2 separate regions of the Homo sapiens genome follow, and region 2 is linked to region 1. Evidence: fine-mapped QTL for protein levels in blood plasma. Region 1 holds a variant in brackets. A gene starts in the other region. All regions are shown on their forward strands.

Region 1 (5,379 bases):
TTGAGTTCCATCTTTTTTTTCCTAATATATTGATGTGCTGTCATTCTCAAACCTAATTCTTAAGGGGTCTGAAATTACTGATGAATTAGAAGAAATTGCATTGTGAAAATGACAGATGAGATTCAGTATTAACATAAAGAAGAAATGGTGTTTTACAAGTAACAGTCAATGATAATTGCAAAACAATTCTTACAGCATTATGCATGGAAATGGGTATAAATCCTAGTGAATCTTATCTTGGATACCTCTACAGTTACGGTTTGCAACTTGAGAACACAGGACTGAAGAGGGCTTATCTGGATCTTAAGATTGTGGAAAAGAAAGCTAGGATTTTGATGAAGTGTAGATTTAAAATTCTAAGCCACTTGGTTCTAGGTCATATCCAAGGTCTAGGTTACACATTCAAGAGACTGCGTGAACAACTCTTGAATCTCAACTCTGCTTTAAAGGACACCCTGTTAAACAGTCCAAAAGTAAACGCAGTATTGCGAGTAGCTACTGCTATCTGATGCATATTTCTGAAATATTTCCTATATGAAAAGAAGTTGAGTTTCTGTTTCGGTAATTTGGCTGGCTGGAGTCAACCAAACCCATAGGTTTGACTCATAGCTGATCTACCTTTCTGGATACCTGTATCCCAGGAATGAACTGGAACCAAAAAGGCTGGAAGTTATTGTTTCTTCACTATTAGACTCTGAGGATTTAACAAACCACAGAATGGTCAGCACCCTGAGGCTGAACCAGAACTGACCAGCCCTTGGGAGTGGGCTCTTTGTGAAGGATCCTACCTGGTCAGTTACCCCATTCCCAGCCACCCTGACCAATAACTTTGGCAGTTAAAACAATAGCAACCTATTTATTGAAATTAGAACTGTTTTGGGGTAGTTACTTTCCTTTATAATTAGCTGTGTGACTAGTTAGATTAACTCACTAAAGTGACTAGCTGAAAATCACTATGAGCAAATCATTTTAACTTCAGGAACTAAGTTCTGATATTTGTAAAATAAAAGCCTTGGACTCAGTAACAATTAATAAACTATAAACTTCTATTAAGATTTATGGTAAGAAACATAAACTTTAAACAATTTAGGATATTAACCATTAGGGGAAAAGTCTAGGTCTTATTCATCTAAAACTCCCTATTTCTTAAATGTTTCTACTAAGTCAATCTTGGAGTTATAAAGATGCCTAACTGATAGAGCAACTTTTTTGGATTTCCTTAATAATAGGGAATACACATACTTCATGAAAATCCCCAATATTGTTTACATTAGAATAAAATTTAAGTATTGGACAGAAGAGTTTAGATTACAAGAAGAATTCATTTAAATAGCACCTGACGTTCCCTAACAACAGTGATTTTATGAAACATTGTAATTGATTTGCCACCTATGTGTGGATCTATCCTAAACTGACTCCTTTAGTTTGCAGGTTCGTTGGGGATTCAATGTCTTTTACTTCTTTTTCAGTCTCAACAACAGCTAATTCAGTACTCTAAATATAGTCAGCATTCAATACAAATTTAATTATTGACTGAATCTAGGCTGTCAGGGGAAAAAAAGATTTGCTACTTGTTTGGACATGTCTCTCTGATTCAATGCCACTTTTGCCTTACCAGCTAATCAGTCAGTAGACTAAGGGTGGTGCATTTTTGATCTTCCCCCTTAAAGAAGGTCAGTGGCTGAAAATGAGATCCAGAGTGATTACATTAGAAGGATTTTCATGTGTACTCCATCAGGGAGATTAAATGTCCAGGTGCCTCCCACGTTTCCTTTTAGGACTTGTTCTTAGTCTTCATACTTCAAGGGCTCAAGAGCAGCACTGACACGCAACATATTCATTGTCCATCCCCAATTACGTTCTCAAAAGGTAACTGTTACATATTGTATTAGAGTTCTCCAGCTAAACAGAACCAGTAGGATGGAGAGAAAGGGGGCTCGAGAGGAGGAGGGAGATGGGGGAGAGAGAGAAGGAAGGGAAGGGGGAAAGGGAAGCTGGTAAATCTAAAATTTGTAGGGCAGCCTGGCAGGCTGGAGACCCAGAGAAGAGTTGATGTTGCAGCTGAAGTGGGAAGGAAGATAGGAGGCAGAATTCCGTCTTCCTCAGGAGACTTCAGTTGTTTCTCTTAAGGCCTTCAATTGTTTGGATGAGGCCCACCCACACCACAAAAGGTAATTGGCTTTACTCAAAGTCTGCTGATTGAAATATCCTTAGATCTAAAAAACATCTTTATAGCAACATCTAGACCAACGTTTGACCAAACATCTGGGCACTGAAATCTGGGCAAGTTGACACAAGGAATTAACCATCACACATATCAAAATGGGACATTTTCATCATTCCAGTTATCTTTTGAAAGTTCTCTGATTTCTTTCACTATTTAAAATATTCTCCAAATAACAAACAGTTCGCCAATGCTGATAATTCTTTTTTTTTTTTCCTTTTTCTGTTTTTTTCTCTCTTTCATAAGACAGGGTCTCACTTGGTCACCCAGGCTAGAGTGCAGTGATGTGATCATAGCTCACTGCTGCCTTAAACTCCCGAGTGCAAAGGATCCTCCCACCTCAGCCTCCCAAGTAGTTGGGACTGTAGGAGTGTGCCCTCATGCCCAGCTAACTTAAAAGAATTTTTTTTTTTATAAAGACAAGGTCTCACCATCTTGCCCCGGCTCGTCTCAAACTCCAGAGGTCAAGTAATCCTCCCAAAGTGCTAGGATTATAGGCGTGAGCCACTGCACCTGGCCATGATTTTCTAATTACAGAAAGAAAAAAACTTTCTATGGTCTTTCACTGCCTCCTTCCACCAACTCCTACTTCAGATTTTGTTCATTTTCTCCATAAGTATTATACATTGGTGCTTAGGAGACAAAGAAGAGACATGGGTTCCAACCCTCAAAAAGCCTGTAGTGGGAGAAGAATGTGCAAATGATTGCAGTGGTGTGGGGTTTCTGCTCAGGTGTTTGATAGAACAGTAGAGGAAGTAAAATTTAATAAGCTTATTAGCATATAGGTGGTGCTTGCATACACAAGCCCTGTTTGGGCTGCACATACCCTCATTGTACAATGGTTAGAAGTATGATTTCCCCAGGAGCTGAGTCTAAGGGCATGTGACCATAAAGGTTTATAAACAAACTCATCATCTCAACCCCGTCGCCCCCGTATACACTCAGCTGAATTAGTTTAGTCTCTCAGTAACA[T/C]GTGTTGCCCAAGGAGATGAAATTTACCTCAATGGCAACTTCTCTTTATGTCTGCTTAAAACTTTACATTTCTCTTCTAGCATTTTGTTCATTAAACTCCAGATTTTAAAATAGACTCTATAGGTACATCTGTAGTTGATGGAGCTGAGTCTGAGGATGGAGTGGACAAGAGTGCTGACCTGTGTCACTGAGACCAAAGCAAAGCCTCTTTTCTCACAGCACCATGGGGATGTGATTATACAGCTCTGGCACTAGCTCCTCAGAGCCAGCAAGGTATTAAACAAGCCCAGACTTTTCACTAAGCCTTTGTCCCCCAGGCACTGCTGAGAAACCACTGCCAACAGGAATTGAATTCTAGGAACCAGCATGCCAAGAAACACACCTCCTGGAATTTTGAGCATTTGACGGAGGTCTGGCAAGCCCTCCTTCTTCTTATTGATATTAGTAGTAGGGAGGGGGCAGAGGGGCTTGTGGATAGAGACTGGAAATTTTCAAAGATGTCCAGTTCTAGACCACAGATAGCATCTTCTGTTTTTAGAACTGAGAGCCAATACCATCAATGGAATAAGGAAAGTTATTATTGGTTTTGCCCCTTCCAGATTTAAGAGGGTCCTGTCCTCTTCCAACCCAAAAGCCTCCTGCCACTTCTCTTTTTTTCTTTGCTCCCAGGTATGAGCCCCATTTATTGTCTCAGGCCAAGATACAAAGGTGGAGAAATCCTGCATTCTGCCCAAAGTGTGAAGGGCTCTGTGTTGTAGATGGTGCTGCTGTCAGTGGGCTGCTTCATGTTCTTGACCCACATGAAAGAATTTGAGAGTGAGTCCAAAGTAAAAGCAGGCAAAGACATTTATTGCAAAGCGAAAGGACACTCTGCAAGCCAGGTCAAACTGGGTTCCTTGAGAATAAGACAGTCCCCTCTGACATTAGGAAATCTCATTTATGGAAAGCTTATGTGATTATTCATAAGAGGGTGGGAATGAGCCTGGCTGTTGGCTTAAGCATGTTGCAGGTGGTCTCCTGGGCGTGCATGTGCAATGCTATCACATATATGGCATGTCTTCTTATTAGCATCTTAATTCTCTACCCAGGAGTGTGTTTTTTACTATTATAATGAGCACAGGTCATGGACACTAATCATGGTCAAGGACACTAATCATGGGTTTCTGTGCTTGTGCATAATTTGGGGATTTTCCCTTCTGCTCTTCGTCCTGTCTGCTGCAGGATGTCCTAACCAAAGCTGCAGATGCCGTTTCTGCACTCTCAAGCGGTTTGTTTTCTCCACCTGTTTGGCAAGTTTGTTTCCCTTCAAGTGACTCTATGACCATCTTATCTAACCTATCTCTGTGCCAGATATGTCTGTAATTCCTCTCTGAAATATTGGAGGAAGGAAACAGAACTAAGTTTCTCGATTATCCACTTCACATGCTTAAAATTCCAGTGCGCCATTAGATCCTAGAATGGTTCAGAGTGAGAGTTCCAGAGAAAATGGAATAATTAAGCAGCAAAGCCCAGGCATATACCATTTAATAAAGCTACAAAAAATCCTGAGATTCTGAAAGTAGAAGAAAAACATTTGGCATAAGACTTATTCTCCTGCTTTTTAAAATGATCCTCACATTTTCAATATATTCTGAAATTAAATGTTTCATTCCACTTAAATGACTTCTGCATATTAACCATCAGTCTGGGGCAAATTTTGTGTTTCTTTTCTTATGTTTTATCCTCCCAGCTCCTGAGAGCAATTACATTGGCTCAAGTATTTGAAAAATCACTCAAATTAAGGAATTGCAGTCCCTCCTATTCTTCAGTAGGCAAATAAGAAATATAGGATCAGATCCATCTCTCCCCATAGGCACATCTCATGGGAATCATAATCAGAAGGATGCTTCCGGAGTCTTTAATCTGAGCAAGGGGTCCTGGTGGGGTGATGGAAGTGTCCACTGGCGTCAGTCTGTGACAGCCTGATGTCTCTGTCCACAGCAGGGATGAATCTGGACACCAGATGGGGCTGTGACCTGGTATGCCCCATCCTCCTCTGCCAGAACAGGATGGGTGCCACCATGTGCAGTTTTAAAGTAAACTGAAAACCAGTTAGTTTTACAGATATTTGAGAATTGTGAATTATCTCTTGAATCAACATAATTTTGCAAAGCCATAGTTAATAGGATTGAGTTGCTGCACAA
Region 2 (5,379 bases), not on the chromosome of region 1:
CAAAGTGAGGGGTCTTCAACAGCAGGGGCTGTGGCAATTCCAAGTCTCATATGTGAGGTGGAAATGGGGGCAAGTTCTGTCCCATATCCCACCCCCGGATGGTGGGTGGTGAGTATTCTCATTCCCACAAAGCCTTGCCTTGGGATGCACTCACTTTCGATGAATTGTTTTCCACCTGGCACGCCTCCGTGCATTCCTTTTCCTGCTTTTGCAAGGGCTTGTTCTGTTAGTAAGATACTTTTCTCCACTATGGATTCTAATTTTGGAGCAGAACAATCACATCAGCAGAAAAATCACCTCATTTAAAGAGAACTCTGCATTGCCCCACCTGCACCCGCCCCCCACCCCCACTCCACCCAGGACATCATCCCTACAGAAAGTCCTAAAGTGCAGAAGTTTTGCTGAGGGCTCCAGCACTTCTCTCATAGGAAGTTGTGTGAGCCAGGACAGAAACCATGTATTGTGCAGGCTGCAACATCTACTATTGTGAAAACGTTGTGTGTGGGTGCAATGCACAATCCCATTTGTGCCTTTGTGTTCAGCTGTTTGAGTCTACCTGCTTCTCACCAGGCTTATCTCTGTGCGTGGAGGTGTGATGTGGGCCTGCAGCCAGAGACTTTTCTAGGTTGTTGATCTGGCATAGAGACAGAGACTTACTCAGGGGGTTTAGTTCCTGCCTGCTTGAGGTGACCTTGGCTGTCCCCTGAACTGCTGCCGCCGAAGTCTCCTGGGCTGTTGTGGTTGTCTCTGGGGGTGAAGCTGGTTCTGCTGGACCTGAGATCTCTTCATTAGGCTTAGCTGTGAATGCACAAATTGATGGATTTTAGCAAAGTGAAAGTGTTTGTTTCTTTTGGAATGGGTTGCAGGGCCCCAGGATACCTAATGTGTGCTGGGTGCCAGGATACAGAAGTGATATGGCTTAAACGCTGCCCCCTTAAGGGAGATAGCATTTCTGCATGCTGTGTGTCTCTTGGAATGCAGCGGGCAGGGTTGGGGAAGGATTTGGACTAGGGGATGGTGAGAATCGGGGAGCACTTCATAGAGAAGCTGGATCTTGAAGGCAGGATGTTAGCAGGAGAGGATGTACCAAAGGGGCTTCCCTGGGGGCAGGCAGTGAGTAAGAGGTCAGGCGAAGGCATGTGTGGGGAATGGAAACAAGTTCAATTTAGCTGATGTGGGTGCGACATAAAAGAGAGTCATGGAAAATGGGGTTGGAAAATGAGGTTAGAGGCCAGATAATGGTTATCTTGCTAAGGAATTGGGAGTAATGGGAGGTGTTTGCAGGTGAAGGTATTAATGCCATGTGAGACATTGCCCTTACCACTTAACCTCATGTTTCTCTCCCTTTTATTCACAATAACCTTTTCCCCATGCTCCCTATTGTCCTTGCCTCTCTGGGTCATCCTCTTTTGTCCTTAGCCTTGTACCATTTCAACCCATGCCACCTTCTTTATTATATTACCTGCCCCTCCCCATTACCACCAAGCACAGAATCCAGATCTCCTCCCACTGGCTTCTTCTCCCAGCCACCACTCACATCCCTAACTGTTAAACCTTCCCAACGAGGGCTAGGGCAGCAGGGAGAGGAGGACTCACAGGTCCCAGCTTCCTGGGCAGGATCAGCACCCGTCGAGTCAGAGGAGGCATCTTCTGCAATGGGGGAAACATGCCAGATGAGAGCAAGGACCGAACCGGACCTACTCGAGCCACCCTCCCCTCCCATTCCCAAAGCTTATCTCCTGGGAATGCTCATGGATAGAAGGGGATCAATTTCCCTTTGGGTTGGACATGCCCTTCCACCATATCAGCGGGTCTACTGGGGCACTCTCTGATGTTTAACTCCTGTGGCTTTTGAAATAACTTCCCCTCTGAGAAGTGTAATGTCTCTTGGAACAGTGCCTTCCTCCTGACTGGCCCCTGGCTTGGTAGGCTTCCCTGAGGTGTCTGTCATGGAGCTGGCCATGGTCAGAGGGGCTCAACCTCCTCTGTGGTGGAGGAGGACAGTATGTGGGGGTTATGGGGCCATATTTGAGCGATTTGCAGGATTGAGACCCCAGCCTTGATTCCCTTTATTCTTTCAACACAACATTTATGCAAAGCTCTGTGCCAAGAGATGGAGGTGCAGTGCTGAAGAGGGCAGACAAGACCCCTGCCCTGACAGAGCTTACATCTGTCCTTTTACGAAATTATTTAATGGCTGGTGTGACAGTGCTGGAAGGGAACGTGCAGCCTGGTGCGAGAAGGGCACATGGATCTGATTTGTTCCGCATGTGCATGGAAGGCCTTTTTGGGGAATTATATGTAAACTGAGATTTTCTAGATGAAAAATCATTGGCCAGGTGACATTAGAGTTGGTTGGGGGAAGGGGCCAGGGAGAGGGAAAGCATTCTAGACGAGGAAAGGACAAGAAGGAAGATCCTGATGTTCAAGGAACAGCAGGATCATCATGGCCCAAATAGTGCTTCTGTGGATCAAAAAAGGCATCCCAGCAGGGCACGGTGGCTCACGCCTGTAATTCCAACACTTTGGGAGGCCAAGGCAGTCGGATCACCTGAGGTCAGGAGTTCGAGACCAACCTGGCCAACATGGTGAAACACCGTCTCTACTAAAAATACAAAATTAGCTGGGCAAGGTGGCATGAGCCTGTAGTCCCAGCTACCCAGGAGGCTGAGGCAAGATAATCGCTGGAACCCAGGAGGTGGATGTTGCAGTGAGCAGAGATCGTGCCACTGCACTCCAGCCTGGGCAACAGAGGGAGACTCGGTCTCAAAAAAAAAAAAAAAAAAAAGGCATCCCTTCCTCCTAAGAGACACAGCCAGGGGCCAGGCTCACTGCTTGGCAAGTAGAGTGTCGGCCAGATTTTAGCTTCTACCACTCCTTGCCTGGGCACCCTCGTGTAGGGGACACCCTGCTCAACTACATGCAGGGGACACCAGAGAAGCCAGTGTAGCTGAGGCATAGTGGGTAAACAATGGTGTGTGAGGAGATGAGCTGGGAGGGCAGGCAGAGGCCAGAGAGTTCTGGGTTCCTCTGGCCAGTGGGGTGCAGAGGCCACGTGTGGAGAACTGGGAGAGGAGTCACTTGCAGAGGCAGGGAAACCAGAATAGCACTGAGAGAGGAGGAGAGGGGTGAAGGCAGGAGTGAGGGGCTCCTTGGACTGGGAGGACTCTTGTGGGGCGCAGAGGAAAGGCCATACTCACCAGCATAGACCAGGGCCCCTGCTACAGCTGCCAAGAAGAGGAGAGTGGTAAATTTCATTCTTTGGGATGAGGAGTGAGTATAACCACAGAATCTGCAGAAGGTCTGGGGAATAAGGATGCTGAAATTGCTGGGCCCTTTTAAGGATATCAAGGGCCAATGGGAACCAAGCCTGGAGAGGTGTGACTTCCGCATCCTCCTCCCCTTCTTCCCCAAACTGTCACCTGCTAAGTCAACAAGGGCTAGGTTGGGCTGGCTGATACCTGGGATCCTTGCAGGCAGGTCCTGGATAGGAGCCTTTCTCTAACTCCCAGCCATCCCTTTTCTTTCTCCCTCCTCCCTTCCCCACCACACCTGCCCTCTGGGTTCACACCCCTGGGCTCTCAGGGACGGTAGGTAGAGCACATTTCACTTGGGGAGATTCTGGGATGTGTCTGTTGAGGGTTCTGGTAGAGAAATCTTAATCTTGTCATCTCTCCAGGAGGAGGTTGAGGGCTCAGGGGATTACATTGTCCACCTTCTGTCCCAGTCTACATAGGACTCAGTGCAGGGTTTGAAGGTTTCCCCAAACTAAGTGAGCCCGTTTCCTTGGGAGACCACACCTAGAACACTTGAGGCCTGAGTTCCTGGCTGCTTTCTCCCCATGAGGGGATGGGTTTGAAGGCGTGTGTGCCTTCTCTGGAGTTGTTCTCTGTTCTTGACATTATCCAGCCCCTAAAAAGAACTCCTCCAGGCTCACATAGGCCTGTCAATCTCTGTCTTCAGGCCTACTCAATGGGACCCCACATTTCTGAGAGAATCTCCTGGTCAAAGCATGATGGTGGTTCACTGAAATTGGAGCTTGGTTCTGACTTCAAGTGGGGAGCTGACCCATGGTGTGAATAATCCAGAAAAGCAGATTATTCTAAAGAAGCTTCTCTTTGACTTGGCGTTTCTTCCTTTCCTGATCTGGGACTCTAGAGGTCTGGATTTTGAGTTCTGGCTTTGTCATATGAAAATGTTAGGATTTGAAAAGTGATAGGATTTTTATTTGTTGTCTAGGAGTTGTGGCTCCTATGTACAGCATAGTGGTGGAGATTAAGTGGGATAATATACGGCAAAGCATTTTTTTAGACAGCGAAGTTCTATGGAGTTGTGTGGGGTTCTTGTACCATCTTTCCAAGTAGGTTTTTGTCCAGGCTGGTGCTAAATGCTAGATATTAATAGAACGGGCCGTGGAGCAGGAGTCAGTTGAGGGGCTGAAGGGTGGAGAATAAGGTGCTGGATGTCAATTTGTGACTTTCCCCTTGCTTGGTGTTGGCATTCACCCAGCCCCATGTGGGCTGATTCCGGAGGCTTCTCTGCCTCATGGTAGCTCTGAAGATGAGTGTGAGAAGGGGGTATTGAAGAGTTTTCAACATGAGGGTGTTTTGGGTGCCAGGGTTTAGAACATTAATCTTTTCAGGAGATAAAGGAAGATAAAATTAATGGGGTGGGACATTAAAGCCTTGGCAATTGCTACCTGCCTGAGGGTCTGGGCCTGGGAGCCTTGAAGGTGGTGGTGGCCTTACCTGGAATGGGGAAGGCTGAAGAACAAGAGAAAGTTTTGATGGCACCAGTGCCCTGGGTATGTGCACATACGTGTGTGCACGTGTGTGTACACTGCAGAAGGAGAAGTCCTGCAGATCCCAAACAGATCTAGATCCCGAGCAGTCTCCATGAGCACATTAAAAAAGTCAACAGGAGCAAATTATGCTATTTGCACAAGACTTTTCTAAGAGGAAATGAGAACTTTGGCGTCAACACTAGAACTGTCACAGAGCAGGGTCTTTCCAAATGTCACCGCATAGCCCTTTCCTCTCCCAAATCTTCCTCCTGGCCTCAGTAATTAAAGAGGCAAGCATTTACATAAATAGGGATGAGGTGAAAGTAAGGACATTTGTTTTATAGAAAATTTTCATTATTCTATAACAGGGCCCAGAGAAATGTTACCCCAAATTATAGAGCCTGGGAAAGAATTGGGTGCATAGATTAAAGAGGCAGACCTCATGGATATGGGTGAGAGGCTGCTCTGTGCAATGTCTTGACGGACCTCATGGATATGGGTGAGGGGCTGCTCTGTGTGATGTCTTGTTTTCTAGGTTATCTGACCTCCATGATGACTGTCAGTTCGCTGATCTGTGTCTTGTCTCATGGGCTGCT

Alleles and levels. Alleles are on the strand shown, and positions count from the first base shown. The strength of an association depends on the size of the effect and on how common the allele is.
With allele T in place of C in region 1, the plasma level of the protein whose gene starts at base 3,312 in region 2 is higher (moderate association).

The links. A credible set is the group of variants that fine-mapping cannot tell apart. PIP is the chance, under the fine-mapping model, that this variant and not a neighbour inherited with it causes the effect. The UK Biobank Pharma Proteomics Project read protein levels with antibody pairs (Olink). The fine-mapping took linkage between variants from a reference panel, not from the people measured, so its PIPs are less certain.
Region 2: it holds the start of LACRT, and the variant in region 1 is the best candidate, but not a certain one, in a credible set for the plasma level of the LACRT protein (UK Biobank, PIP 0.53).

The regions. Positions count from the first base shown.
Region 1 is chr7:7,326,026-7,331,404 of GRCh38, forward strand. All of the region lies in intron 1 of LOC107986764 (a long non-coding RNA gene), which reads left to right. Among named protein-coding and RNA genes, the nearest start is that of LINC03016, 74 kb to the left of the region's middle. The variant T/C (reference allele first, on the strand shown) is at 3,197.
Region 2 is chr12:54,631,584-54,636,962 of GRCh38, forward strand. LACRT (lacritin) reads right to left here and starts at 3,312. Exons shown (of 5, transcript NM_033277.2): 1 at 3,201-3,312; 2 at 1,597-1,650; 3 at 658-798; 4 at 155-256. The coding sequence starts at 3,258.